Homo sapiens: one gene and its partners. The protein of the gene in region 4 purifies or fractionates together with the protein of the main gene of each other region. This does not show direct contact. Each region holds a gene or a part of one and is shown on either strand. Other genes may lie near its edges. The genes, in order: BPNT2, ADPGK, RASGRP1, ABCB8, RAB11FIP5, CCDC51 and PROCR.

Region 1 (4,803 bases), on a different chromosome or scaffold from region 4:
GTTGTCAAATGTCAGTTAGGGGACAAAACTGTCTCCAGTTGAGTGCTCTAGGATAACCCCTGGTATATCCTTTTACTGAGGAGTGAACATTACATACGAAAGCTCAGACTTCAGACTCTACATAGGAAAGTAGTGGGAGAAAACAGATCTTTCTACATTTACATAGGGCACTAGGATAAAAGAAAGAAGTATCTGTTGCTTCTCAATGGTCTTTTTCCACTAGGAAGTAAACTAAGTGGGATATAATTTAAGTTTCTTACCAAGAAATTTGGGGTGAGGCTTCAAAATTAACCAGGGATTTAAGACTGTACTTCTGGGCATTAGGAGAGGGGAAGGCAAAAAAGGAGAAAGACTCCTTTTAGGTTGATTCTCCACTTAGTTGGCTACAATATTTGGCCTCTAGCCTATAACACAGGGGTATAAGGAGATCGCTCAACATGACACCATCCCTACTTTGACACTGTATAAATGATCACAAACCTCTTCTATTCCTTCAGTCATGACCCAACATGAATACTACAGAAGCACATGCAAACATTCAAATAGTCACAAGAAAACAAGAAGTTGTTTTATATTAAGCCAGAGACTTCAACATCTGCAATTCCAAAAGCTTAGCTTTTATGTTAATAAAATGCAGCTCACTGCCCTTGGCAGCCATTCCCTTATTGTTTGCTAATAAATGAGAATGCACACACATACAGATGTGTTTTCAACATTTAAGATACTTTTGTTTTTACTTAAAAAAAGAAAAATCAACTCTGCTTGCTGTATTTCACTATTACTGCTTTTAAGCTTCTACAATTATAAGTTTTAAATAGCCTTCTAAAAATCTAGCTAAAATGTGGGATAGTTCATATAAGCTGGAGTGTCACGAGCCTCAGATTTCCCGTTTGTATAGTAGGCAGAAATAAAATTTACTTCTTAAAGTTGCTGTTAAGGATCAAATGAAGTCCTGTGTAGCCAGTATTTGGGCATGTAAAATATATTCAATAAATGGTTATTATTAGTACTGTTATAACCATTAAATAGCAACTTCTCTGAATCTCCTGTTTCCTCTATAAATTCTTGGGGAAGGAAACACGTATGTTTTGGAAAGGGGGTAAAATATTTCATAAACACACCTTACATCTAGATGCAAAAAAATTTAAGTATTATTTGTGATGATAAAAACAGAGTAGGGAAGAAGAAAAAGTGGAAATATTCTGTGTTTTAAGTAGAAATTTGAAAAAAAAAATTCTAACGTTAATTACATCTGGTATCCAGTAGCTCATGTTAGGAAATACAATGTTCCTTTCCACTGGAAAAAGAAAAAGACGAAAGAAAAGGGAGGAAGAGAGGAGAATAAAAAACAAAACCAAAGCAATATTATGATAGACTGGAAGAAGCCTTATGCAAAATACATAACTAAACAATGACAATATTCTCCTAACTCTTTCAAGATCAGCAGTAAAAGGTCAGTCACCTTCCAAAGAAGCCTGGGTTTGCACATCACTGTTTATCTAATAAAATTCCAGTGAAGACAATTTTTCTTCCCAGTAGCCAAAACTACAGTTAGGTGAGTTAAGATATACGTTAATAAGGTGCTGCTACGCTATGCTGAGCTCTTCCTCAACAAAATTTGCAGTTTCTGGAACTGCAAATTTTAAATATGCTTTATTCAACTCAATAGCAGCTCCAGTGAAATGATGAATTCAAAAAGTATTAATAACAAATCCAAAATGTCTGGATTTCCTTAAGAAAATGTCAACTCCCTTCCCAGAAACCTACCCAAAGAAAAGCCAAATGTTATTTAATTCTTATTCTCTGGAGTAAATATGGATCTTTAATCAAGGGCCAGGTAGGACCAACAGCTGGTATATTTCTAAGTACCTCCTTAAAGGGCCCGCAAACTATAAACTTTAGAGCGTCCTGACAAAAAGACAGCGAAATGAGCATACTCATCCCCCACCCCCCCACCCCGACTCCCGCGAGCGCACACACGCACACACAAATGCCCCGCACACTAACAGCTCTGCAACAAGACTCGGTCTTTCAGCTGGCTACTGGCAGGCCACCCAGAAAATGTGTACTCCAGTTTCGACCCTTCTAGGGATGAAATCAAGGAAGGATAGAGAGTCTTGGTGGATTTTAGCCAACCCCTTAATTCTACAGAGGAGCCTGAAGCTGCGGGTGCAATTAACTTTGTCAGCCTTTTCGTTTCAAGGCCTTCTGATCCCAGGTACACACGGCGCACACCCGACCCAGGACGAGCCAAAAGGGCACGGGCCCTGAGTCAGACTACGTGCAACCTCACCCAGCTCCTCTGCTGTCTGTCTGACCTTGTGCACGTTAACTTCTGCGTCTCAATTTCCACATCTACAAAATGGAACCAGAAGCTCCACATCCCATACTGTTAAGAGTCGACGGGCCGAGACGCGCTACCCGGCTCGAGTGGGCGCTCCGCCCGTGGGCTCCCACCTGGACGCTGGGGAAGGCGGTCTTGAGCAGGTAGAACATCTTGCGGTTGGACAGCACGTCGCCGCTGGTCATCTTGTCCTCGGCTCCCTCGCGCGTCTTCCCCTTGGACTTCTCGTGGAGGACGTTGCTCTCGCGGACGCGCCTCACCTCGTCGCCGCCGCGGACTGCGGCCAGCACTGACACAGCCAGCATCTCGCGCAAGTCCACGGTGCCCCCATCGGCCGCGGCCGCGGGCCCCGCCGCGCCGCCGCCAGGCTCGCCGCCCAGGCCGAAGAGGCTGAAGCGGCCGGCCAAGAAGCCCGAGTAGAGGTGGTAGAGCACGCCGAGCCCCAGCAGGCAAAACACTGCCACCCCCAGTGGGGAAAGGCGGATGCCCATGGGGGCCATGGCGTGGGAAGCCGGGCGCTCCGGGCTGCGGCTCTCACAGGCCTCCAGCGCCCGCCGCCGCCGCCGCCGCAGCCGCCGCGCTCCGGGCCAGGCGCCGCGCGGGCTACACTGGCGCCCGCTCCCCGGCCCCGGTGCGCCCCATCACTCCCTCCCAGGAAAGGCCGAGTTGCGCCGCGAAGACCACCAACGCCGCCCCGCGCGCCTGACTCGCCAGGCAGCGCGCTCTAGGTTCTTCCGCCGGCCGGCTGGTCCGACTTCCACGTTAGCCTACGGCCGCGAGGTGAAAGGGGAGCGTGGGTGTGTATCCGGGTTACGCGACGGGGCGGGGCGAGGGCGAGGGCGAGGGGCGGGGAGAGCTGGGCACCTCCCCTTGGGGCGGGGCGGGGCGGGACAGGAGGCGCTGGACTGAGCTGCCTTCCTTGGTCTGGGTGGGAAGGTATTCCTGGAAGTGGCGAGCAGCAATCCGCACAGGACAGTGTGCTGTGCTGAGTGCCTTGTGGGTGTTTAAATTAAATATCCCATTGTACGACTATGGCTGGCTGTAATAAACCCACAGTAACAGTCTAGTCTTCTCATCACTCTCAGATTATTGAGGAATGGAGGAAAACACAATAAACCATTTTAAAAGATTGATTTGCAAGCTTTTTTAGCCAGCGGGGGTGTAGACAGCCTGTACCTTTAAGTCGCTTCTCCGCGCTCTTCCCGGCAGGACGGGGAACTGGGCGGTGAGGGGAAGAATTGTACTTGGCTCTTCATTCTGTTGACATCTTTGTCGTGCCCTAAATGCTTATGTGTGTATAGAGTTTCTCTCCTCCACCTGCCAGAATAAACCATCCTCGAAGCAGCTGAAAAACATGCCTTGATCCGGGTTTTTCATAATGAAAGAAAGCAAACCAGGCTTCTCTCATTTCCAAGGGTACTCGAGCCTGGCTCTCCTACCAGAGCTTAAGAAGAGGAATTGCTTGACAGAGTCCACTTAAAATAGAGGTTATCCGGAGATGGTCAGTCTAGAACATGTAATCTTTGAGTCAGCGTAGGCTCTCGAAGTATTTTGACAGAAATAACTACCTTCTACTATAACACCGATCTTAGCTAGAATGATAGTGAATACTTTATAAGTATTCATGAGTTTATCTTTAATCTTAAAAGTGAATATTAAGATGTATAGTATTGTTCTTAAATGTTAAAATATCTATATAAATCAACTTAAAATGTAGCCTGTTTTACTGTTCATAGCAAAACAGCATTGGTTTTAAGTGGACTTTAGAATTAACCACCTGAAAAACTGCAAGTATACCAAACTTCTAAACATCCATTGCTAAGCAAGTCATGTAGAGCCTGACCTTTACCGCTTACTTAGAGTTCAGGGCATCCCTAGAATTTGCATGTGATTATACACATACAACAAAAGCACTGCCAGATTATACACATACAACAAAAGCACTGTGATTTCCCTGCCAGAATCACAGCACAAAATCAAGTACAAATACAAATCAGTGAAAGAACAATCCCTAGAGTATTGACAGCACCAGAACTTAAAGAACTAGCATTGCCTTTCTTGTCAGCTTTTGAGAGTAACTTTGCAATGAAGCAAAGCTGCTTTCAAATATCTAAAAGTGAATGTCACAGAGTAATTCTCAAAACCCATCCCAGGGATAAAGATAAACATCAGGGTTGAAATATAAAGGTTTAAGTTAAACAGAACCACCCCAACCTACACTATGACAGCAGCAAAAAGATGAGTTGGATAGTAATCATGTCAATATTAAAAGCATCATTGGGAAGTCTGAGATTTCTCAAAATAAACGGAATAATATTTTCCAAGGATATTGGAGAATAATATAGGGTCACATTCAGTGTGGCAGTATACACAGTATACCACTGAGGGAAATACTAAAAGCTCTGGAGCATTTCTACTGCAAAAAAGGGATTTAAGACTTGAGGGAGAAAATGCCAAGG
Region 2 (4,153 bases), on a different chromosome or scaffold from region 4:
CCATTGTGTTGACTGGGTTTTTCCAGGGGAGGAGTGGGGCCAGTTAAAAGCTCCCCATGCCAACCGATTCATCTTCTCTCACGACCTCTCCAACGGGGCCATGAATATGCTGGAGGTGTTTGTGTCTAGCCTGGAGGAGTTTCAGCCAGACCTGGTGGTCCTCTCTGGATTGCACATGATGGAGGGACAAAGCAAGGAGCTCCAGAGGAAGAGACTCTTGGAGGTAATGGCACTGTTACAGAATTTCACAGATCTCAGCTGGTGGTTTTCTTCAGGTTCCAGCCTCTCTTGGCATCTGCTGCCTTGTCTTAGGTCCTGGCCTCCCAGGGACATATCTTGGCAGCTGGCTGTGGAGCTTGCCTCCTGCTGCAGTGAGGCACCTCACTGTATCCCTTCAGATGTGGGCAGCAGCTTGAGTAGGACAGGGCAGAACATCTTCTTGCCTGAGCCTCTGCATCCTGTGCTAAACCGACCATGGCTGCAAGCTGCAGGGTTTGTAGTTTGTGTCCTTTGTGTTATTTGTATCATCTCACTTCACATCAGCTATGCTGCAACTCCTACAGATTCGTACAGCAGTCGAAGTGAACTGCCATCTCTGATTCTGTATCCCTGATGGCTCTGCACAGCCTAGTCTTCCCTGGTGGGAAGAGTGTCCCTTGTCCACAGAGGTGGTGGGGACCCACATTGCTTGTAGCTCCCGTGAGCATGCAAAGAAGGCCATTACCAGGAGGAACCGCCTCTCAGGATCTGATCTTTTCTTCCCTCTTTCTTGACTTCCTTCTATTTCTAATGGCAGTGCTTATCTTCTTCTCTTTGCAGGTTGTAACCTCCATTTCTGACATCCCCACTGGTATTCCAGTTCACCTAGAGCTGGCCAGTATGACTAACAGGGAGCTCATGAGCAGCATTGTCCATCAGGTAACCTCATGGGACCATCGTTTGGCCCTGATCCTCATAGAGCCTTGCAGAGAAGCTTTTTTGTGCAGTGGGACCATCTGTTTGGGCTCAGGGACTGGCTCACTGACATGTAGGTTTGTGTCACTCAGACCCAAGTCCATGGAGATCCAAATAAGGATCCAGGACTGTTCTGAAACAGCAGTATCTCCTACTAGGTTAAAGTTATGGCAGTGTAACTGACAGATTGTTGATCATATTTCTCCTCTGGAATGGAAAAGTTGAAAGTGAATGGAAAAAACTGAAAGCCCAGCTCAGCTGCTTTCAGTTGAACTTCAAGAAGCTCAAAGCAAAGAAACTTTGAGGGAACCTCCCTCCTTCCTCAGGCATCTGGGTGTTCAGTGCCTGCCTCTGGGCAGCAGCATTGACTAGTATAAATCTGAGCAGGTGAAGCTTCAGAACACAAGCTCTGGAGACCTGGGTTCGCATGCCAGCCTTGCACTCACGGGCTTCATGAACTCAGGCAAGTTACCTCACCTGGCAATCTAGTGTTACCTAATTTTAATTGGTAATATATTCATTTGGTTAAAAAATACCCAAAAACTATGAAAAGATATACAATGAAGTCTCCCTTCTACTTCCTCCCCTTCCCTACTTGCACCCTTCATCAGTTTATTTCCAGAGTTCTTTTGTACAAGTATAAGAAAATACAGAAATATATCCTGATTTTGTTTTCCATCCCTTTTTACCCAAAAAGATAGCATAGCCTACTGAATACTCTGTTCTTCACTTTGCTCTTTTTTTCACTAAATATATCTTGGAGATCTTCCTGCATCACTAACATGGAGAGTATCCTCTGTCTTTTCATAGCCATATGGTTAAAATGAATGTGTAGATGTACCTCCGTTTACTTAACCTGAACCTTCTGGATGGACATATTGGTTATTTACTGCCCTTTGCTGTTACACACAGTGCTGCAGTGAACAACTTGATACATGATTTTGTTTTGCCTGTGAACAAGTCCATATTTAGGAGAAAGTCTCAGAAGTAGAACAGCTGGACTGGAGCATAAAAAAGCACTTGTAATTTTGAGATTGCCAGATTGCCCTCCATAAGAATTATACCAGTTTACTTCCCACTGGCAATAATTACAAATACTTGTTCCCTCATATCCTTGCTACCAGAATGTTAAAATTTGCATTTATATCAGTCTGACAGATGAAAAAATGGTATTTCAGTATACAGTCATCCCTCGTCATCAGCGGTGTGTGGGGCGGCGGGGGCGGTTCCAGAACCCTTCCCAGATACTAGAATCTGCAGATGGTTAAGTCCTGCAGTTGGCCCTGTGGAATCTGTGGATTAGACAAGTTGGCCCTCCCTATCTGCAGGTTCCACATCCTTGAATACTCTGTTTTCCATCTGAAGTTGGTTGAAGCCATGGATATGGAGGGCTGACTGTCGTTGGTTTTGTTTTTTTTTTTTTTGATAGACTTCATTTTTTTTTTATGGTAATATTAGGTGCATAGCAAAATAGAGCAGAATCCAAGAGAGTTCCCATATACTTCCAGTCCCCTCACACACAAGCCTCCCCAACTACCAGCAGCCTGCACCAGAGTGGTACATTTGTTAAGCTAGTGAGCCTACACAGGCACGTCATCAGCACCCAAAGTCCATAGTTTACACTTGGGTTCACTCTTGGTGTTTTTCAGTATAGCTTTTGTTTGGGTTTTTCTTCTCACCTTTAAAAAAATGAGCCATTTCTATTTCATTTTCTCTGTAACTGTCTACTTAACCCTTCTGAGGCTTAGTCTGTACAATGGAGGCAGTCCCTCCTTCCCTCAGAAGATTACAGTAAGAATTGGATGAAATAAAGCCTTTAGCTCAGTGCCTGACACAGAAGAACATGCAGTGAAGGAAAGCTGCTATTGCTCCAACAAAGATGTAGGCCATTAAATTTTTAAAACCATTTTATACATGCACACATACATACAAGGACTCCTCTCTCCTGCAAAAATTGTTACCTTAAGTGTGGTTCTCTGGTTCTAAGGAGGGAAGTGCTAAGTAAGAAAGACAGGGAGGTGGATATTGTGGTTCCCCATCAGACAGAAAACACGGGCACCTGTTTGGTAATCTTTTTCTTACAGTGTTATTGCTAAATTCAGACAGTCTTCCTAACCCACACCTGCTTTTAAAAAGCTTAGCTCTAACATGAAACTGTATGCTTTTTGCTTCTTGGTGTTTTGTATAAAAAAAATCATTATAACCCTGACAGTATGTTGCTTGAGGTCTCCATTTTACTGGTCTAATACTGCTGACATTCAGGAACTGAGAGCCATGCCCCATCAGTGGTAAGAGTATCTCCTATGTGTGCAGTGGCAAAAGCTAGGGACCATGGAAAGAAACACAAAATATAGACACCTCTGCCTTTTGTCTTACAGTGGCATATCACAAAAGACTGCATCTGAAACAATGTTACTGCAGCTTTCCAGTTTCTCCCAAATGATGATGAAGGTGAAGATAGGGGTGTGATAGCTAAAACAGTGACTTCAGGGCCAGGGAGTCCTGTATCAAGGAAGAAAGCTGCCTGCCTGTGTTCCCTGTCATTTAGTCACTGGCTGTGTCATAAGACATCTTAGGAGCCAGGTTATCTCCATCAGAAAGATACCTGTTGTTGTTTTTGTTAGCAGGTCTTTCCCGCGGTGACTTCCCTTGGGCTGAATGAACAGGAGCTGTTATTTCTCACCCAGTCAGCCTCTGGACCTCACTCTTCTCTCTCTTCCTGGAACGGTGTTCCTGATGTGGGCATGGTCAGTGACATCCTCTTCTGGATCTTGAAAGAACATGGGAGGAGTAAAAGCAGAGCCTCGGATCTCACCAGGATCCATTTCCACACGCTGGTCTACCACATCCTGGCAACTGTGGATGGACACTGGGCCAACCAGCTGGCAGCCGTGGCTGCAGGAGCTCGTGTGGCTGGGACACAGGCCTGCGCCACAGAAACCATAGACACCAGCCGAGTGTCTCTGAGGGCACCCCAAGAGTTCATGACTTCCCATTCGGAGGCAGGCTCCAGGATTGTATTAAACCCAAACAAGCCAGTAGTAGAATGGCACAGAGAGGGAATATCCTTCCACTTCACACCAGTATTGGTGTGTAAAGACCCCATTCGAACTGTAGGCCTTGGAGATGCCATTTCAGCCGAAGGACTCTTCTATTCGGAAGTACACCCTCACTATTAGGAAGATTCTTAGGGGTAATT
Region 3 (4,153 bases), on a different chromosome or scaffold from region 4:
GGGACTTTTACAGCTTTGGGATTTTAAGCCATTGTTTTCAGTTCAACATATTCCAGAACACAATATATTGTCGTTGCCTTTGGAAGGTCTGTTAAGGGGATTGAATTAGGCTTGGTTATTTGGCGGGAAGGACTTCAGAATCAGTCATGTATTTTTCAGGTTGATAACATGATTCTTTGAAGATTAGAAAAACAGTCTTGAACTCGGCCGGCAGTTGCACAACAGGTATGGAAGGAAGGAAGGTGGTGTGATAAACATGTTTCTCGTCCCTCTTTTTTCAATAGTGAAACAGAAAGAAGAAAAATCCTTATTCAGGAAATAGTCATGGTGGCCTGCTAAAGCCGAGTAAATCTGACTGCTGAAATGGTGTAAGGAACTTTGCAGTTTATTCAGGTTGGGAAGGAAGTGAGAGTGGAGTACATGATGAACAATGGCCCCACGTCAGCCGCGCCTCCCCGGTCTCCACCATCCTCTAGTTTATCTCCTCGCAGTATATTTTCTAAGGAGATTATTTTGAAATAGAAAGCCATTCATTCTGCTCCCAGATTCATCTTAACTGAATGATTAAAGTGTGAAATAAGATTGAAGTATAAAATAAAGAGAAATCTAATGAAAATTTAATGCTAAACTAGTAATACTAAAAATTCTTCCTCTTTTCCAAGTTAAAAAGTCTACAACAAACAGCACTTTAAAGCAATGATTCGCGAAGTGCGCTTCTTGGGTCAGATGCAACAGCATGGCCTGGGAACTTGTTAGAAATGCAAATTCTTGTGCCCCACCCCAGACCTACTGGAGTAGAAACTCTGGGGTTGGGGCCCAGCAATGTGTGCTAAAAAACAAAACAAAGAAACAAACAAAAAACAGCCTCCATGTGTGATTCTGACACTCTAATGTTTGAGAACCAGTACTTTAAACCAACGTTGAAATAGTTGAAACTGTTCAATGCTGTACTACATTGTACTAAATGAATATCCCTAACATGTCAAGTATTTCCCAATTCTATACATAAGGTCTGAGCAAGCACTTAACACACACAGCCACTAGTCCGTCATTCTGAGATCTCATGGATCATGAGCTGCCTAGGATCTGACTAAGCCTCCCTTAGGTTCCCAGGAGGCTCCCAGGGTTGGGGTAGGCTTGGGGGGGTTGGTATGTCTGAGCTGTGCCACACAGGCTCCTCTGCTTCACCGTGGGAGATGGAGGGATACAAAAAGGGGTCCACAGGAGGAACAGGAAGCTGGAAATCTTTGAATTCAATGATTTCATTGAAATCCATCAATTTTAATCATTTTTTGGGAGGAAATATTTAGTACTTTTCAATCACTATTTCACAAATAAAAATCCAAAAATACACCACGCTTATAACATTTTAAAAAATCTTTTCAGATAATTGCTTGATGGCTGCACTAAGCTGTGCCTCCCTCATGGTGGGCAAAGGTGCTGACAGAGTGCAGCGTCTGAAATGTGCGTGTCCACATTTATTTCCCAGCCCCTTGACCCTGCATTGCAACATTTATTAACCAGTGTCTTCTCGTCACAAACCTCCTGGCTTTACCCAGTCCTTTCCTATTCCACCACATCTGCCCTCCAGATTGCAAGGGGAATTATTGGGACTTTATTCCTCCAAATGATTCCAATTTCTGTTTGATAACAAAGTTTGCTCATGTAACAGTCTTTATGTGCCCCAAGAAGGCAAGGACAGAAAAGTCTCAAAGCACCAGATGCACAATATCATTTTATGATATTTTTCATCACAAGAAAAACCTCCATCCTAAGAAAAATGGAAATGCAAACTCTCCTAACTTTTCTCACTTTAAAATTGCACTTCTCATCACGACCTATTACACCCACATAGTCATGTGCCATAGGCTCTGCAGACTGTCTCCAACATTTCAAAGGCTCAAAAGCTATTTTTAAAGCCAAAATACAATCTAGATTGCTGTTCCGTAAAGCACTTTTAAAGGACGAACAAAGTAATAGAGTGATTTTTATGCCTGTGGGCAGTTAGCCAACTTACCAAAAGATTGAATGCAGCTGTCAATGAGATCGTCCAGGCTGGCTCCTTTGGCTAAATGTCCCAGAGACACCATCATTCGGAACTGGGTGATGTGGGCCAAGCTGGGATGGGAGGGGAAGGGGCTGTTGGCTGGCTTTGCCTCTAGTCTTGCTTTAGAGGCAGCTCTGCAGCCATGGGAAGGTTTCCTGGGGAAAGAGAGAAGGCAGTGAGGGGACAAACGGGCAGCTCCACGCTCTGAAGGCAGATTGGAGAGGAAGGGAATGGAGATAAGACAATTAATCTCAGGAGCTGGGCTGATAGAAGCCATACCCCTCCCACTTGGCAAATGCACCAAATGACTGGTTGGCTGTTAAAGAGACATCTCCCCAGCAAAGGTGAGATTTCAGGGTTGCAACTAGTGCTCTTCATCCTGGCATTAGGATTGCTCTGTCCTACTGTCTCCCACTTCCTGAAGGGGAATGGCAGAGGCAAGACTATCTTGGCAGTCCTTAGCTCCCAGCAATGTATACATTTTTTCAGCTACTAAGCCACTGACTTGAATCTTAAAAATTATTTACATTGGTTTCTTTGGCTAACTTTGGCAGGGCATGGTGGCTCACGTCTGTAATCCCAGCACCTTGGGAGGCCAAGGCGGGTGTATCACCTGAGGTCGGGAGTTCGAGATCATCTTTGGCTAACTTCATTAATCTTGAGCAATACCTGAGATACTACACAAGGTCAGGCAGCCTCAGAATCATCGTTAAGGACCTTGGGGGAGAAGTCAAAGACTGAGGACTCAAGTGCAGGAAGTGAGGGGTGATGATGGTGGTGTTTAGATTTTAAGCGAGTCCTGCCTTTCTTACAAATCTTGGTTGGTTTTAAGATATTGTTTTTCATGGTTGATAATACAGGTAACCATTATGAGTCATTTTTGTTACTAAACATCGTTTTTTCAAATCCTTACTTGGGTCCTGATTGAAACAGAAAGCAGAGCTGTGAGAGCGTTGTTCCAGCACTCAGTGTAAAAGGGCAAGTTTGGATCTAGAAATGGCTTAAGAGTCCAATGGACTTTCATCTACTCACACGCAGCTCTATCTCTGGTCATGACCTCATCAGTACAAGTCATTTTGCGAAATGATTTGGGAAGTTGATTGTCTTCTCCATTAAAAAATACACATACACACACAGATCCATATCTATAATCTTTTATGGTTTAATAGTGATGAGTGTTGCTGGTAACTCTCTTGAGCATTTAGTTAATTCTCCTCTCTCTACTGTGGCTTTGGTTATTTTGTAGTTTACTACCAAAGCAGCAAAGAGAAAAAGGAAAAAAACGTACCTCTGAAGTGTAACTTTACTCACTATATATGATAAATGCATAATGGCATCAATTAATCTCTAAGTGTTTATTCTATGAGTAAGGCATTGTGATTGGCCAGAGAAGACCACAGCGAGATAGTCTAGGTGAGGGTACTTTATATACTCATTACATACTAGCTGCTGTTGTTACATAATGGCAGTCTAGAAGTTCCTTAATACAAAAATATAGCTGAGGAATCAGACTGAGATAATGAAAAGAAAGCTACATAAATGTTAAATAAGTGTTCTATGAGTGTCAAGAGTAATAAGCATGATGTTCCCAGAGAAGAAAGAGGCAGTTTGTGGGACAGTGTCTGGGAAAGCTGCTCTGACAGGATATAATCTCAACCAAAGGGGCTGAAGAAGTGCTTAGATCAAAATAAAATGCTAGGCACATGTGGGTTTTGGGAAACCAGCCTGCTAAGAGATGGTGTATAACTGAACTATGGGGCCACTCAGTACACAGCTAGACCTGTGCAGGGGCACCCTGGCCCTTCAGGTTGTTTCAAACTAGCTCCAGGGCGCTGGTCTGCAGTGGCCGCTCGGCTCTATTCTGACCTGATGCAGGTCCAGTGAAACTGAATCAACAATTGGTTATTGGGCATCTGCTAACCCTAGGCAGTAATTCCTGAAAGATCAAGTCGGTGGTACAGGACTCAAGTTTCTGGCCATAATTGATTTTCAAACAGGCCCTGTGATAGCCCCAGAATTGGATCAGTCTCTAAAAGCAAAATAATAATGGTGACATGAATTGAGTACCTATGCTATGGCAGGTACCGTGCTGGGGACTGACCCTGT
Region 4 (4,153 bases):
GCTGTCCCACGTTGGCGAGCGCATGGCTGTGGACATGCGGAGGGCCCTCTTCAGCTCCCTGCTCCGGTACTGCCAGCCGCAGGGTGCAGAGTTGGGGTGACTGATGGCCTGAGGGGTCTGGGGGTAGGACCTTATCCTGAAGTAATGTCTCCCTCTTCTGCCCTCCTTATTGGTTCTTGTCCCATGCCAGACAAGACATCACCTTCTTTGACGCCAATAAGACAGGGCAGCTGGTGAGCCGCTTGACAACTGACGTGCAGGAGTTTAAGTCATCCTTCAAGCTTGTCATCTCCCAGGTCAGTGGCCCAGTGGCCCCCACCACGTCCACACACACACTTTCCCATGTGGATTCACCAGGCCAGCCCTGCCCGCCCCAGCCCTGATGTTGGGCTGACAGGCGCATGCTGACTCGAGAAACCCACTGCCTGTGAGGGCATGGGTGAGGGACCATGGAAGTTCATGGAAGGAAAGTGTAGAGGCAGTGTCCAAGGTCAGGACAGGCTGCTTCTCCACTGCTCTGAAACCGAATCTTCCCTGGAAAGCCTTCCCAAGCACTCAGACAAGAGCCTTTCCTGGCAAGAGCAAAATCACTTCGCCTGCCTTGTCCCCAGAGTGCCTGGATTGCTGACAAGCATTGAGCATGTGCAGTGGCCTACCGAACACAGATGCCCTCCCCTTATCCGCCCACACCGACTCTGACTGCTGGATCATGCCACACACTGGCCTAGGCAGTCACTGGTGTACCCCCATGCAGTTCTCTTTGTTCAGTTCCTAGAACAGAAAGAGAAGCAAGCTGGGATTTGTCTAGGGGAAGGATGCCACAGTTCATAGCATTCTCGCTCGGCCCCCTCAGGCCTGCTGCTCGCACCCCAACTGGCCGAGTTAGGGTTACGTACTGTGACCGGTGGACTGCCACTGGGCCTCCCAGGGGCCAAGACCTGGGCCTTGGCCGTGGGAGTGCAGAGCTACAGTCAGCTGACCCTTGGAAAAGTCCTTCCTGTCATGGTGCGGACGCCGTAGCCTCCCGCCTTCCCTCCCACTCCCTAGGGGCTGCGAAGCTGCACCCAGGTGGCAGGCTGCCTGGTGTCCCTGTCCATGCTGTCGACACGCCTCACGCTGCTGCTGATGGTGGCCACACCAGCCCTGATGGGAGTGGGCACCCTGATGGGCTCAGGCCTCCGAAAATTGTCTCGCCAGTGTCAGGAGCAGGTACCGGCATTCCTGGCCATCCTCTTCACCCTCCCCACACCGTTTCTCTTTCCACTCCCCGGAACTCCTCCCTGTCCCCATCCTGGACTCCTTGTCCTGTTTTCTGGACTCCTTGTCCTGTTTCCTGGACTCCTTGCAGATCGCCAGGGCAATGGGCGTAGCAGACGAGGCCCTGGGCAATGTGCGGACTGTGCGTGCCTTCGCCATGGAGCAACGGGAAGAGGAGTGAGTCCTGGGAGGGCGGAGCACAAAGCAGAGATGCCCCCCACACCCTGCCAACCCTTCGTGCCAGCCCAGCTGCCTCCTGAATGCACTGGTCTCTCTCACCAGGCGCTATGGGGCAGAGCTGGAAGCCTGCCGCTGCCGGGCAGAGGAGCTGGGCCGCGGCATCGCCTTGTTCCAAGGGCTTTCCAACATCGCCTTCAACTGTGAGTGAGCCATTTGGGGGCTGGAGGGGCGCTTGTGGGCTGGGGAGGAGCTGGGAGCAGCCAAGGCAGGCAAAGGCCCTCCCTTCATCTGCTGGCTGCCTGCATTCGCCTCGGGCCAGCTGCTAACTCTTGCAGGTAAAGGGAGGGTGCCGATGTCCCAACCCAGCTATGGGACTCCATGTGGAACGCTACAGGGCCACCCTCAAGGAGGCCATGGAGGCGTGCCCACCCCAACTTGCTCTTCCGAGGAGGAAGCCAACGCTGGGACCAGTCATGCGCCTCACCTGACTCTCCCAGTCAGCAGTGGCAGAGCAGGCCCAGGGCTGTTTCCTCTGCCCTGGCTTCGTCCTCCCTCACTTCCCCTCTCCTGCAGGCATGGTCTTGGGTACCCTATTTATTGGGGGCTCCCTTGTGGCCGGACAGCAGCTGACAGGGGGAGACCTCATGTCCTTCCTGGTGGCCTCCCAGACAGTGCAAAGGTAAGTGGGGGCCGTTCCCATTGCTACAGAGCCCCCTGCCGCCCTCCAGAGCCCTGCTGGGTTAGGGGACACGGGTGCCAGCCTTCTCTGGGGGCCGACTGCTGTGCAGCTCCAGGCCTGCCCAGCTTCCCCAGGGATGCATAGGGTGGGGAGAGAGAGCCCCTCAGGGCCCATAACAACCCTCCTGGCTGGGGCAGTGGCGCTGCAGCAGGCAGGTGCTTGTCATCTTCAGCCTTCCAAAGGACCCAGAAGTTTCCTTGACAGGCTTTTTAAAAATTTGTTTCAACTGTGGTAAAGTACACAAAACATAAAATACAGCATTTTAACCATTTTGAAGTGTGCAGCTCATGGGCAGTGGGTGCACTCACATTGCTGTGCGGCTGTTGTCACCGTCCGCCTCCAGAACTCTTACCTGGCAGAGCGGAAACTATCCCCATGACATGGGAATCCCCATTTGCCCTCCCCCAGCCCCTGGCACCCACCATTCCACTTTCTGTCCTTATGATTTGACAACTCTAGGGACGTCCTCTAAGTGGAGTCAGACTATGTCCTTTTGTGACTGCGTTTTGTCACTCCACATTGTGTCCTCAGCTTCCTCCGTGTTGCACCCTGTCCGAATTCCCTTCCGCTGCAGGCTGTGACATTCCATGCATGGAAGGACCATCCTTGACAGGCTGTGTGAGCTGCCCTTCCCCATGCCTGCCACTTCCAGGGATGACAAGCTGACCCCTGTCCCCACACACCCCACCCTTATAGCTTATTGCTTTGCGTTGGTCCAAAACCACCCGCTCAGCTGAGCCTCTGGGATGACCAGAGCTGATCACCAGACAGCTCAAGGCGGGCCTCCCCCCTCCTATCTCTTTCCAAGCTAAACACAAGCAGTTCTACATAAATATGTTATGGTAAATAATGAGATAGTAAATATGCTGTAACAGATCATCAAAGGGTGAAGACCCGTCTCCACGAACCGTGCATCACCTCTGCCACCCCATCCCTCCCCCCACGACCCCCCTGCTCTTCCACCGGGGCCCCCACCCCATTCTACTGAGGCATGTGTCCTCGCCCTGCTGCATGGTGCACCCCTGCGTGTGTGTCCGCCGGATCAGAACCCCTCACTGCAGGGTGTACTGTCCCAGGAAGCGGGAGGCGGACGGAGACAGGCTCCCATTTTCAGCCCCAAACCTGACATTCCACAGAGACGTTCCTCCCATTTCCGCAGCTGCATGGACACCCTCGCGTGCCCCGTTTCTGCTCGTGCTCCCTAATCTGAGCACCTTCAGACCCTTTCTGGTCCCGGGCTCAGGCCTCCTTGGCAGCCTCGCCCTCCTCCAGCCCAAGGAGCTGTTCTGTCGTGGCTTTGGAATTCAGATGCTCTCACTGTGATAGAGATGGGGTCTTGGGGGGCTGGGAGCTGTTCTGTCGTGGCTTTGGAGTTCAGATGCTCTCACTGTGATAGAGATGGGGTCTTGGGGGGCTGCCTCCACCACTGCCTGCCCTGCTCAGCGCTGACCCACTTCCCTTGACCAGAGTTTTGGCCTCTCTGAATGGGACGGTCGTTTTAGTCCTGAGGGCCCATAAGAAGCCCAGTGGCGGCTGGGTGCGGTGGCGCACACCTGTAATCCCAGCACTTTGGGAGGCCGAGGTGGGTGGATCGTGAAGTTAAGAGATCGAGACCATCCTGGCCAACATGGTGAAACCCCGTCTCTACTAAAAATACAAAAATTAGCTGGGCATGGTGGTAGTCCCAGCTACTCGGGAGGCTGAGGCAAGAGAATCGCTTGAACCTGGTAGGCAGAGGTTGCAGTGACCTGAGATTGCGCCACTGCACCCCAGCCTGGCAACAGCAAGACTCCGTCTCAAAAAAAAAAAAAGAAGCCCAGTGGCTCCCTTAATAAAATCACCCCTTAGCCCTCTGTGGTGGGCAGTGGTGGGACAGTCTCCCTGTGGGGAGGGTGGCTGCACTGTCCAGCCCCAACCCTCCCGCTTCGGGACCCCCACTTCCCCTTTAGGGCCTGAGACTCTGACTTTACCTCCCAC
Region 5 (4,153 bases), on a different chromosome or scaffold from region 4:
GAAGAAGTATGATCTGGAATCTGCCTCTGCCATCCTCCCAAGCAGCGCCATAGAGGATCCTGACCTGGGCAGCCTGGGCAAGATGGGCAAAGCCAAAGGCTTCTTCCTCCGCAACAAGCTGCGCAAGTCGTCCCTGACCCAGTCCAACACCTCGCTGGGCTCGGACAGCACCCTGTCCTCAGCCAGCGGGAGCTTGGCCTACCAGGGACCTGGCGCCGAACTCCTCACCCGCTCACCAAGCCGTAGCAGCTGGCTGTCCACTGAAGGGGGTGAGCAAGCACAGGGCCGCCGCCCTGGGGAGGGGGGCACTGGCTCTCCCCTTGGGTGGTGATGAAGGCCTGGGGCCAGGAAATGGGGCCTCTCTTCCTGCGAGCTAACTCTGTGTGTTTCCCCTGCAGGCAGGGACTCTGCACAGTCCCCCAAGCTGTTCACCCATAAGAGGACCTACAGCGATGAGGCCAACCAGATGCGAGTGGCTCCTCCTCGGGCCCTTCTGGACCTTCAGGGCCACCTGGATGCTGCCTCCCGCTCTTCGCTCTGTGTCAATGGGAGCCACATTTACAATGAGGAGCCCCAGGGCCCTGTGCGGCACCGCAGCTCCATCTCGGGCTCGCTTCCATCCTCTGGCTCCTTGCAAGCTGTCTCTTCCCGGTTCTCCGAGGAGGGGCCTCGTTCCACAGATGACACCTGGCCCAGAGGCAGTCGTAGCAACAGCAGCTCAGAGGCAGTGCTTGGACAGGAGGAGCTGAGTGCTCAGGCTAAAGTCCTGGCCCCTGGGGCCAGCCACCCTGGAGAGGAGGAGGGGGCCCGGCTACCAGAGGGCAAGCCAGTCCAGGTTGCCACACCCATAGTGGCCTCCTCTGAGGCTGTGGCAGAGAAGGAGGGAGCCCGGAAGGAGGAACGCAAGCCCCGGATGGGTCTCTTCCACCACCACCACCAAGGCCTAAGTCGGAGCGAGTTGGGTCGCCGAAGCTCTCTGGGGGAAAAGGGGGGTCCCATCCTGGGGGCCTCCCCACATCACTCATCCAGTGGGGAGGAAAAGGCCAAGAGTAGCTGGTTTGGCTTGAGAGAAGCCAAGGACCCGACTCAGAAACCCAGGTAAGTCGTTGGCAAGACCAACTTTGCTCCTTGGGGAGGATGCTGGGGTGTGTGCTGCCTGGACCCTGGGGCAGGGAGGAAGGAGTAGATATGGACCTCAGGCAGGCTGCTGGGGCTCTGGCTTTGCATGGTTTAGTGGGGTGTCTCCCTAAGCCAAGGTTCGTTCTGTGCTCACGGACACAGGTGAGTTACGAGGGCATAGTGCTCTGAGAGTCCTATGGATTGAGGGGTCCGACTTCTCAGCCCTAGGCCTTGCTGCATGAGTTGGCATGCCCACCCCCTGAGCTGGAGGGAAGCAGGAAAGTCCATTTGTGTGAATTCTTTGCTTCCTGACCTCCACCTCTTGCCCTCTGGCCTCAAGGTAAGGAAGCCTTGGTAGAGAGATGAGGACTGGAGACCGCACTCTCAGACTTCCCTTCCCCTCTCTGGAGCTAGAGGACTTCTCCCCAGCTGTCTCTGTGATCACTTCCCTCTGGGAGACGGGAGTCAAATAACTGAAGCCACCACTCCTTCCCCCGTCCATTCACCTGCCAGTTGCTTCCCCAGGCAAGAGGCTGTGGGCAGCTCCCATGAAATCTGTAACCCATCTCTGTCCTTGGAGACCCTGGGAGCTCTGGCCCTCTCTGATGTCTCTTGGTCTTGAGGTATGGCACCGTGGGAAGTGCTGGTGGCAGCTGTTTTGTTTTGAATATACTGAGTCCCCCATTTCAGGCCCTGGGCAGAGACCCTGATGCCTACCATTTGCTTCCTCCTAATTCTGAGCCAGGAGAGGCTGCAGAATTGTATAGCAGGGTCCAGAGAGGGGCTCCAGGTACAGGTCACAGAAGTGTGTGTCGCACCTTCCCAAGGGCCTGGGGCCAGCCCTCATAGGCAGCATCTGTGGCAGCCCTGGCCAGTGTGGTGAGAGCACTGTTTCTCTCAACAAGCCTGCCCTTCCCGCTCCATGGCTGCTTGGACAGGTTTAGAGGACAAGCACAGTAACAAGGGGGCAAAAGATAGGGCAGAGGAAGGACCCTAAACCTGTTGCCCAGAGGGGAGAGGAATCTTGTAGTCCTGGCTTTTTGTTTCCCTGTGGCACTCTGAGTCTGTTGAGAGGAGTGGAGAGAGACATGCAGGCCTTTCTAGGTTTGGGCCATGGTCAGCTGACAATCCCTGTTAGACCCTCATAGATAGGGGTATGGGGGGGTGGATCAGTTTCAGGGGCATGCCACCCCTTGCCTCCCTTGCTTGGTATGGCAGCTCCTGTCCCTACTGCCCCGCCCCTACTCACCAGAGCTCAGGTGAGCTGCTGGCCATCTGCGGCCTAGGGGAAGATTGGGAAGAAGGGGACAGGCCTTTCCCAGATGCCAGGCTGAGCCTGGTGTCCCTGTGACAGCCAGCCAGAGGTATTTGGAGGTGGTAGGGTAGAGGGAGGTAGCAGGAGATCTGGACAGGGCATTTGCTGGGAGGAGCTGAGGGCCTGGATTGAAAGGGGCACAGAGCACAGGCTCAGTGTGGTTGTGCGTACGGTGTCTCTGGGCCTTTTCTGGGGCAAGGTGAATGCTGGGGCCATTTGTAGGTGAGTCCTGCCCAGGCTTTGGGCTTGGACTCCCACAGGCTGTGAGTCTGTGGGGTTGTCACTGGCCTGGGGCACTTACAGTCTCCATCCTCTTTCTCCTGCTTCCCCATATCTCCTAATGGCCTCTTGGAATCTGGAGGATTTGGGTCACTGATGGCCATAAGGAAGCTGAGGTTTCTGTCCTGCTGTCACTTGAATTCTGAGCCTTGTCTTTAGCAGGATGGAGGGCACTCAGCATCCCTCCCAAGATGGGGCCTATTTGCAGGTGGCGGCTGCAGGGCCAGGCTCTGTGGCCGTGCATGCAGATGGGGTGGGAGGGGCTGTGCTTTGGGTAAGATGGCCTGGCCTGGACAGATGTGACACCTGGCCTTTGAGCTCAATCAGCAGCATCCTGGCCTTGTGTGCCTTGCAGGGAGGGGAAGGCTGGCCTGGAAGAAAGGACTGTTGGCGCTTCCCCAGAGGGCTTGCTTAGGGCCTCTGAGGAGAGAAGGAGAGGTGGGCTGCCTCATGGCAGGAAGCTGTGGGTTAGACCCAGAACTGGAGTGACTGAATGTAGCTGCAGGATCTCCAGCTGGGGCCTGGGGAGCCTGTCCCCAGGTCCAGAGAATGGGGGCCTCTGCCTTGGGGCTACCATTGCAGATTGTGGGATGTTCCTCACTAGGAAGAACAGCGGCGCCCTCTAGTGCTCCCATGTGGCACTGATGCCCCACAGAGAGGCCCGGGGCTGAACGTGTTGAGTATGGTATCCAGAGAAAGGCTGCTGCCGTGGGGAAGGAACAAATGAGGCTATACAGGGCTGAGAAGAGGGTCCTGCTGTTCCTCTGATGTGGCCTTTGTCTGCTGGGGGCCATGGCAGTCACACTGGGCCCCTACCAGTGTGTGCTGGAGCAGGGAGTAGGTAGTTGAGACCAAGCTTGTCTTGGCCACAGGACTTAGCCTCATTCCCCTGCCCTGTTATGAGCCATTCACACTGAGCTGCAGCACAGGCTACTTCACGTGTGTTTGAGGACAGGCAAGACCACGCATTTTAAACCCGCCAGGGCCAAAGTGGATTGTCTTTGTGTCTATCCCGGGTCATCCTTGTGTTCCCTTGTTCCCCGCCCCCCACACTAACCATAGGACTCTATGCACAGAAGGGGATCAAATGTTGATTACAAAAACTTTTAAAGTTGGGAATAAGTGTGGTACAACATAGAGATGAGTGTATCATGATGGTGGCCTCTGGCAGTCTCTGCAGTGCCTCCCTGCACCAGGTGTGGTAGGCAACAAGGTCCCTCCCTGTGGGCCTGGAATGTGCTGTGGCAGCGGAAGGAGCTTGGCTGCATTCTTGGTGGTGTAAATGAGTAACTATAATGTGCTCCCAGTGGCTTGGAGTTAGTGCAGCCTCACGTCCTGCTCTCCTCATGTGCTCCTCACAACCATGCTCTTGTCATGGTTACTGTATTAACAGTGTTCTGGTTTGGAAGATAAATGATACGTTCTCCCTACTTACAGCTT
Region 6 (4,659 bases), on a different chromosome or scaffold from region 4:
TCCTGATGGATATATTTCCTTATGTGTTGCCTATTCTCTCACTAGAACATAAGCTGGGTGACAACAGACTTCATAAGGGAATGTGGCAATAATTCCCATGTGGCAACTGGAGTTGTTTCTCCACTCCAGTCCCTCCCCTCAGCCTCTCCACCATCCCACCAGCCCCCAACCCTGGGCCCTGTTTCTCAGCCCCCAGGATGTCACCACTTAGATGTTTCACAGGCCCCCCAACCAGCAAGGAGAAGAATGTTCCTGGCAAAGAGAAAAGGTGGAAAGTGCTTGAGGTCGCCCAAAACCTGAAAGGCAGTCAGTGCAACTGGAAAGCAAAAGCAGAGAAGAGTGGATGGAGAGGCTGGATAGGTGAAGCAGGGCCCTGAGGGTCAAGTTCGGAATCCTGCCCCTTCAGATCCATTCTCCCGCTCTATGTAGATGGCTGTCTCCTACCAACTGCCCCTTCCTCAAGCCTCTATCATCTGTTCCTCATCTTCACTTCCAGCTGATGGTCTGCTTGCTTCATTTTCCATCAAGAAAATAATAAAAAGTTGGAAGAGAACTTCCACAAACTCCCACCATACCTTCCCAACCATCAGTAACTGCCCCATTTCCACCTCCTCTCTTGATCCTCAGGATAAAAAACCCATGCTTCTAGGGAAAACCAACCTGTGCCCCAGGTCCCAAATCCTCTCTCCTCCTGAGACATTACTCAGTAATTGATCTGACACCCCCCCACCAGCAACTGCCCCATTTCTTTGGTTTCCTTTATAACCAAACTCCTTGACAGACTGCCTGAATTCACTGTTTCTGTTCCTCTTCTCTGATTCCGTCCAGCTCCCTCTGATCTGGCCTTCACCTGCTCCTCCTTCACATGCCATTTTTCACTCGGTTTCCAGTCCCCACTCATCTGCCTAACCTCTGGAAACTGTAGCACCCCGGCACTCGGCACTCAGACTCCTCTCTTATCCAGTCCTGTGGTTTTAAAAATCATCTATGAAAATGGTCAAAAAAATTTATTTTGGTGATGGCCATACAACTTTGTGAATATAATAAAACCACTGAATTGTACACATTGCATGAATTACATGGTATGCAAGTTATATATCAATAAAGTTGTTTTTTTAAAAAAAAAACAGAACTATACTCTTGACTCCTCCAGCGCAGACCTCTCTCCCCAGGGTTCTAGGCTCATTTATCAAACTTCCCAACCTATATCTCTGCCTGAAAATCTAATGGGGATCTCATCTTCCCCTCCCAAACCTTTTTTTCCCATAGCCTTCTCCATCATGGATGACAGCAATACCAAGTTCAAATATTCAGATCAACAACCTCGCATCACCCCTGATTCCTCATTTCTCTCCCACCTCACATCCATCTATCAGCAAATGCCCCTGGCTTTCCAAATCCAGGATCCCTCCTCCTCTCACCTCTGCCACTGCTACCAAATGGTCCCAGTGACCCACATCACATCTCTAGCCTGGATTATCCCAAGAGCCTCCTGACAGATGTCACCCTGCTTCTATTCCAGCCCCTACAATTTATTGTCAGTCGAGCAGTCAGTGTTCCTTTCCAAACACAGGTGGAACCATTGTCTCTCTGCTCAACCTCTACAATGGTTCCCCACTTCTCTCAAGGTAAAAGCCTGTCTTTTCCATGGCCTACAGGGAACCTACCCACTGGCTCTCATTCCTCTCTGACCTCATCTCCCACTAGTCTCCCTTTCCTCACTCCACTCCAAGCACATGGACCTTCTTGAAGTTGCTGGAACGCACCAAGTTGTCCCCAGCTCAGGGCCTTCACGACAGCTGCTATCTGTGCTGCTCGCTCCCTCACCTTCTTCAAGTCCTGCTCAAATAGTAGCCCCTTGGGAGGTCTTCCCCATGCACCCTATCAGATATGGCCATCCCACTCCCACCCTAGCACTCCTGACCCACTTTCTCTGCTTTATTTTTTCCATGCATATATCACATGACCTGCAACATGTATCCCATTTATTTGCTTTGGTTATAGTCTGTCTCACTCACTAGAATTTCAGCTTGGTACCTACATATAGTACGTACCCAGCAAAAAATGTACTCATCTGCCTAATCTCTGGACACTGTAGCATCCCAGCGCTCAGCACTGTTATTTAAAAAAATAACAACTTTGGCTGGGTGCGGTGGCTCACGCCTGTAATCCCAACACTTTGGGAGGCTGAGGCGGGGGGATCACGAGGTCAGGAGTTCGAGACCAGCCTGGCCAACATGGCGAAACCCCGTCTCTACTAAAAATACAAAAATTTTCCGGACATGGTGGCGGGCACTTGTAATCCCAGCTACTGGGGAGGCTGAGGCATGAGAATCGCTTGAACCCAGGAAGCAGAGGTTGCAGTGAGCCAAGATCGTGCCATTGCACTCCAGCCTGAGAGACAAGAGCAAGACTCCATCTCGGGGGGAAAAGAAAAAAAAGCTTTATTGATATATAACTTGCATACCATATAATTCACCCAATGTGTACAATTCAGTAGTTTTACTATATTAACAGAGTTGTATGGCCATCACCAAAATAAATTTTTTTGACCATTTTCATAGATGAACAAACAGAATTCGCAAACTGCTGCACCCCTGACTATATTATAAAACTCCTTACAGGGTTTTCCAAAGCTATAGGACCACGTGATATAACTCCCGTCCACTTCTGCCATCTCCCCGCCTAATCTCCCTCCACCCAAGCTGTGCTTTCCTTGGTTCCAGGAAAGCGACGAGCTTGAAGCTCTTTGCACATGCACATGCCCTGCTGTCTACCTGCAGTGCTCTTCCCGCGCACGGCCACAGGCCTGGTAGGCCGTCCGGTTAAGTACCCCTCCTACGGTTCCGATTCTACCCTGGCAGGACAACCCTAGCTCCTCGTACCTGGCGTGGCCCGACCAATCGTCTGCCACTCAGTTGACCTCTGACCTGTTAGTACCCGCCCCTGGAGCGCCGCATCCGGTAGCGAGAGTTCAACTTCCTGACTAGGAGCCAATCAGCGGGGCCGCCTCGCTGTCTACGACAAAGGGTGGGGCAGACGCTCCGTTTCCGGTGGCAGGGTCTGGGGAAGCGGCGGCAGGCGCCATGTCCGGCCGCGAAGGTAAGTGTTCCGGAACCGTGAGGACTGCGGGGACGGCGGGGTGGGGACCGGGCGGCAGGGGCAGGCCGAACGTGCTCGTGTCGCCCACAGGTGGCAAGAAGAAGCCACTGAAACAGCCCAAGAAGCAGGCCAAGGAGATGGACGAGGTGAGGGCGGGCGCGGAGGCACTGGCGGGTGCGGGGGCGCTGGGAGACAGGCCTGAGTTGAACACGCTCTGCCTCTCCCCAGGAAGATAAGGCTTTCAAGCAGAAACAAAAAGAGGAGCAGAAGAAACTCGAGGAGCTAAAAGCGAAGGCCGCGGGGAAGGGGCCCTTGGGTAAGTGGGGGCCGAATGGAGCTCAAGCTGGCCAAACGCTATGAGCACCTATTGGGATGAGGGCGCGGGCATGTCTTTTTCCTGCCTCCTGAACTGCGAGGTCTCGTTTTCCGACGTCCGCTGCAGCGAATGGTCTCTAGCCAGTCTAGGATTTGCAGCGGCAGTAAGGGCCGGGAGCTGGAAACGAGGTCTCCTGCCTCCCAGGCAGTCTGGGCTTCCATTCCTTAGGAAGAGCTGCAGAAACGGAAACAGTGAAATGTATTTACCTCAGACGCAGATTCACAGTTAAGTTTCTCAAAGTCTGACGTCGTCCGCAATCTTTTGCCCCAAATTCGTATTTCACTGCCTTCTAGTGTTTGAACCTTACTTGACTTAGAAGTTTTTTTGTTTTGTTTTGTTTTGTTTGAGACAGAGTCTCACTCTGTCTCCCAGGCTGGAGTGCAGTGGCGTGATCCCGGCTCACTGCAACCTCCACCTTCCGGGTTCAAGCAATTCTCCTGCCTCAGCCTCCCAAGTAGCTGGGATTACAGGCGCCTGGCACCACGCCTGGCTAATTTTTTTTTTTTGAGACGGAGTGCGGCTAATTTTTGTATTTTTAGTAGAGATGGGGTTTCACCATCTTAGCCAGGCTGGTCTTGAACTCCTGACCTCGTGATCCACCCGCCTCAGCCTCCCAAAGTGCTGGGATTGCAGGCGTGAGCCACCGCACCTGGCCAGTTTTTTTTTGTATTTATAGTAGAGACGGAGTTTCACCATGTTGGCCAAGCTGGTCTCGAACTCCTGACTTCAAGTGATTCACCCGCCTCTGCCTCCCAGAGTGCTCGGATTACAAGCGTGAGCCACAGCACCTGGCCAACTTTTTTTTTTTTTTCGTACTGCTTATATTATCTCTAATATATGCTTTTTTGCTTTCTGAGTCTTTTTACTTCTGGGTATGCCTAGACTAAAAGATAAAGTCCAGGCTCTTCAGTGTGCTGTTGCTCCATATGCTTTTCTAACTGAATCCTCCACCTTTTTTACATCTTTTATGTAGGAGAAATTCATTACATTTCAAAATATTTTTCAGGCCCAGCAGTTCTAGTACTTTATGTGCATCATAAGCATTATTTTACATTGATCCAACTAGTGATTATTTCCTCCACAGTTGTTTATGCCCCCATTTGAGCACTGTGAGCCATGCTAGGCATGATGGAGACAAGGATGGTGGGAGTGTCATCTAGGGCTTCCCAAGACCTCTCTCC
Region 7 (3,444 bases), on a different chromosome or scaffold from region 4:
TATAGTTCAAACAGGAACAAAAGGAACCAAAAAATGGAATTCTAAGGAAGCCAGCATTTCCAGGGTGAATCGTGTAAGATGACATAGTCAAAGGGATTGAAAAAAAGTAGACAGAACAGTTTTAAAAATTGAAGTATGGTATCTCAGAAGTTAAGGCAAAAAGAGAGTTCTAGTCCGCAAATTTGCAGATACCATGTAGGGTGATGGTTTGACAATTAGAGGTTACTGGTGATCTCAGAGTAGTTTATAGAGAAGTCAGATTGCACTGGGTCTAAGAATGAGTGAGAAGACCAGGCGCAGTGGCTCACGTCTAATCCCAGCACTTGGGGAGGCCGAGGTAGGCGGATCACGAGGTCAGGATGGCCAACGTGGTGAAACCCCATCTCTACTAAAAATACAAAAATTAGCTGGGTGTGGTGGCATGCATCTGTAATCCCAGCTGCTTGGGAGGCTGAGGCAGGAGAATTGCTTGAACCGGGAGGCAGAGGTTGCAGTGAGCTGAGATCACACCATTGCACTCCAGCCTAGGCAACAGAGCAAGACTCTGTCTCAAAAAAAAAAAAAAAAAAAAAAAGAATGAGTGAGAAATAAGGAAGCAGAAGAAATGGGTATAGGTTACTTTTCCAGAAATTTTGCAAAGTGGAGGAGATAACAATGCCTTAAATATAAGAAATTTATTAATATTATTAATTGATTAATAATTGATCACTGCCATATGACTTGGATTTTACATTTCCACCACTTCTTCGTGTTACTTCTTTCTACCCTATTATATCAGCGTCCCATCCCAAGTCTGACACACCTGGAAGTATTGAATGTTGTATTTTGATTGTGGATGACTTGTTTATTTGGTTATATCTTTTGAACGCCTCAGGTGATTCTGTCTGTCTTTGGAGGATGGGCCATAGGCTTCCTGCCCCAACTCCATTATCTGTTTTCCACAAAGATAGATAAACATTCACTTATCAGACTAATTCAGCAAAGCATACACGTTCTTAGGTTCTTAGCAAACCAAGTACTTTGTCCACCTCTCCTCTCCATCTCCCCTCCCTCAAATCTTCAGTGGGCAGATGTGGGAGAAGAAAGGAGCTGTCACTCCAAACCTTCTGGTGTTTCAGTTGGGGAGTCTGGCTTCACAGTGAGCTGAAACTTTCCCTTGCCAGCCTCCATCAATCCAGCCCCTTCTGAGGGGGCTGGAGAGTAATTAACATCGCCGTCCACCTGTGCACAGGAAGATGCCTACAGCCACACCAGCAATGATGAAACTGCCCACCAGGACGCCCAGGACCAGCGAAGTGTAGGAGCGGCTTGTTTGGCTCCCTGCAGAACATGCAAAGAGTTAGCCCGAAGAATAGGCCCCCAAGGAGTCCATGATTTGAGTCAAACCCCAAAGCGTTTCTGCCCCAGAGGAAAGGGACCCGTTTACCAACTGACTGAAGCTGCGTGTGTTCTGTCCCAAACCCCCAGCTGTGGGCCTCTTGTTGCTCTAGGCATCCATCCTTCAGGTCCATCCATTTGTCTGGAACCCGCCCTCTCCCCAGCTTGCAGGCCTGGGCCCCGTCCCATCATACCTTTCGTGTTTTCCGCGGAAATATGTTTCTGCACATACTGCACACAGGTGTCCTCCAGGAATTCCCGCAGTTCATACCGAGTGCGGTTGTAGGCATTGAGCTGCTGCAGGGTGAAGGTGACCACTCCGGAGGTGACCTGGGTGTCTGCCTGCCACAAGGCTCTCTCCGGCCGGAAACTCACAAAGGAGCTCCCATTCACAGCCACTTCGAAGAAGACATGGGCTCTAGAGCCCTCGGGAGGCAGCTCACAGCCCAGGAAGCAGCGGATGGTCAGAGGAACTGTGGATAGACAGTCAGGGTCAGGGGACTGTGCAGAGAGGGTGCCAGGTGTGGGGCGAGGCCCACCAAGGGGAAAAGAACATGAGAAGGCAAGAGTCAGTGCTGTGAGGAGAGGGGAGTCTAGGTCAGGGAACTATGGGGAGAAGGGCCTGGGGCTGTGAGGAGGGGTTTGGGGTTAGCCTGTTAGAGGCTAAGAAAGAAGGGGCCAGGGACTGTGATGAAAAAAGGGAATTGTCAGGCCTTGTTCAACTGTAATAGAAAAAAAAAACAGGGGGTGAGGCTGGGGCAGGGGCGGCAGCTCACGCCTGTAATCCCAGCACTTTGGGAGGCCAGGCTTGTGGATCGCCTGAGGTCAGGAGTTCGAGACCAGCCTGGCCAACATGGCGAAACCCCGTCTCTACTAAAAATACAAAAAATTAGCCGGGCGTGGTGGCGGGTGCCTGTAGTCCCAGCTGCTTGGGAGGCTGAGGCAGGAGAATCGCTTGAACCCGGGAGGCGGAAGTTGCAGTGAGCCGAGATCGCGCCACTGCACTCCAGCCTGGACGACAGAGCAAGACTCCGTCTCAAAAAAAAAAAAAAAAAAAAAAAAGGGGGGTGGGGTGGGGGACTAGGAGAGAAAGGAGTTAAAGGCCATGATGGTGGGGGAAGGGGGACGGAGTGGTGCTTGGTGCTTTGAGAAAAGAAATTGGGGTCTTTGAGAAGAAGGAGTTAGGGTTGTGACGGGGAAGGAGTGGGGCTTTGAGAGAAGAACTTGGGGTCTTTGGGGGAAGAGTTCGGGTCATGAGTGGAGCTAAGAGCGAAGTCATCAGCTTGTATGAGAAGTGGCTGGAGGGTGGGGGGTGAAGTGCTGGGGGCTGTGGGAAGGGAAGGACGGAGATCTATGAAGAAAAGGAGTTGGAGGACTGTGAGGCGAGGGGTGAGGAGTTTTCTGGGGACCTTCGACGTCACGGTGTCAGGGCCTTCCAACAGGGTCTATCCCAAGAGGTTATGCCAGCAGGACGACCGCCCGAGTCGGGGCTTTCTTAGCGGGGACAACTGCCTCTCTCCAGCCCCCACCCAGCAATCTTCAAAGGCCCAGGCGCCACCGAGCTCCAGTGGCTGCCGGGTCCCTGCAAGTCCCAGCCCGCCTCCATCCGCCAGGCCCCGCCCCCACCCGCCAGGCCCCGCCCCCACTAGCCCCGCCCAGACCCCGCCCCCGCTGCGCGCCTACTCACAGGCCAAGGTCCGCTCCTGGTGCACCAGGCGCACGAGGCCGTGGAACTGGAGCAGGTAGGACTGCAGGCCACTCTGCGTGCGCGCCCAGCTCTCGGGCTCCTGCAAGGGCTGCAGCTGAATGATCGTGGTGTTGGTGTCTGGGCCTTCCAGCACGTGCGTTAGGTGTCCCCCCAGCGACGCGTTGCCCTGGTACCACACGTGATAGGGGTCGCGGAAGTAGGAGATCTGGAGCATATGAAGTCTTTGGAGGCCTGCGGGCAGAGTCAGCTTCAGCCTGGGCCGGCGTGGGAGGGGGCGGCGGGCAGCGGAAGATAATAACCCCCTACCTCGAGGCTGGCCGCCCGCCTTCTCGACCCTTCATAAACTATAATGTGCCCTC

What was found.
Region 1: the proteins of ABCB8 (region 4) and BPNT2 fractionate together in Homo sapiens (co-fractionation; one large-scale study listed by BioGRID). This does not show direct contact.
Region 2: the proteins of ABCB8 (region 4) and ADPGK fractionate together in Homo sapiens (co-fractionation; one large-scale study listed by BioGRID). This does not show direct contact.
Region 3: the proteins of ABCB8 (region 4) and RASGRP1 fractionate together in Homo sapiens (co-fractionation; one large-scale study listed by BioGRID). This does not show direct contact.
Region 5: the proteins of ABCB8 (region 4) and RAB11FIP5 fractionate together in Homo sapiens (co-fractionation; one large-scale study listed by BioGRID). This does not show direct contact.
Region 6: the proteins of ABCB8 (region 4) and CCDC51 purify together in Homo sapiens (co-immunoprecipitation; one study listed by IntAct). This does not show direct contact.
Region 7: the proteins of ABCB8 (region 4) and PROCR fractionate together in Homo sapiens (co-fractionation; one large-scale study listed by BioGRID). This does not show direct contact.

The regions. Positions count from the first base shown.
Region 1 is NC_000008.11:56,990,742-56,995,544, forward strand, and holds the start of BPNT2 (Golgi-resident adenosine 3',5'-bisphosphate 3'-phosphatase), read right to left. Parts: upstream 3,127-4,803; 5' UTR 2,845-3,126; coding exon 2,458-2,844; intron 1-2,457. UniProt on the Homo sapiens protein: Exhibits 3'-nucleotidase activity toward adenosine 3',5'-bisphosphate (PAP), namely hydrolyzes adenosine 3',5'-bisphosphate into adenosine 5'-monophosphate (AMP) and a phosphate.
Region 2 is NC_000015.10:72,752,321-72,756,473, reverse strand, and holds part of ADPGK (ADP-dependent glucokinase isoform 4 precursor), read left to right. Parts: intron 1-26; coding exon 27-223; intron 224-819; coding exon 820-918; intron 919-3,332; coding exon of another isoform or gene 3,333-3,359; exon of another isoform or gene 3,360-3,405; intron 3,406-3,578; coding exon 3,579-4,133; 3' UTR 4,134-4,153. UniProt on the Homo sapiens protein: Catalyzes the phosphorylation of D-glucose to D-glucose 6-phosphate using ADP as the phosphate donor. GDP and CDP can replace ADP, but with reduced efficiency.
Region 3 is NC_000015.10:38,557,804-38,561,956, forward strand, and holds part of RASGRP1 (RAS guanyl-releasing protein 1), read right to left. Parts: intron 2,811-4,153; exon of another isoform or gene 2,325-2,810; coding exon of another isoform or gene 2,203-2,324; coding exon 2,018-2,202; intron 1-2,017. UniProt on the Homo sapiens protein: Functions as a calcium- and diacylglycerol (DAG)-regulated nucleotide exchange factor specifically activating Ras through the exchange of bound GDP for GTP. Activates the Erk/MAP kinase cascade.
Region 4 is NC_000007.14:151,034,534-151,038,686, forward strand, and holds part of ABCB8 (mitochondrial potassium channel ATP-binding subunit), read left to right. Parts: coding exon 1-66; intron 67-190; coding exon 191-296; intron 297-1,047; coding exon 1,048-1,209; intron 1,210-1,348; coding exon 1,349-1,434; intron 1,435-1,539; coding exon 1,540-1,637; intron 1,638-2,010; coding exon 2,011-2,116; intron 2,117-4,153. UniProt on the Homo sapiens protein: ATP-binding subunit of the mitochondrial ATP-gated potassium channel (mitoK(ATP)). Together with pore-forming subunit CCDC51/MITOK of the mitoK(ATP) channel, mediates ATP-dependent potassium currents across the mitochondrial inner membrane.
Region 5 is NC_000002.12:73,084,995-73,089,147, reverse strand, and holds part of RAB11FIP5 (rab11 family-interacting protein 5), read left to right. Parts: coding exon 1-269; intron 270-398; coding exon 399-1,098; intron 1,099-4,153. UniProt on the Homo sapiens protein: Rab effector involved in protein trafficking from apical recycling endosomes to the apical plasma membrane. Involved in insulin granule exocytosis. May regulate V-ATPase intracellular transport in response to extracellular acidosis.
Region 6 is NC_000003.12:48,437,211-48,441,869, forward strand, and holds the start of CCDC51 (mitochondrial potassium channel), read right to left. Parts: upstream 2,910-4,659; 5' UTR 2,778-2,909; intron 1-2,777. Other genes in the region: TMA7 (translation machinery-associated protein 7), read left to right, coding at 3,087-3,102, 3,193-3,248, 3,331-3,418.
Region 7 is NC_000020.11:35,174,574-35,178,017, reverse strand, and holds the end of PROCR (endothelial protein C receptor precursor), read right to left. Parts: intron 3,317-3,444; coding exon 3,065-3,316; intron 1,851-3,064; coding exon 1,572-1,850; intron 1,321-1,571; coding exon 1,205-1,320; 3' UTR 656-1,204; downstream 1-655. UniProt on the Homo sapiens protein: Binds activated protein C. Enhances protein C activation by the thrombin-thrombomodulin complex; plays a role in the protein C pathway controlling blood coagulation.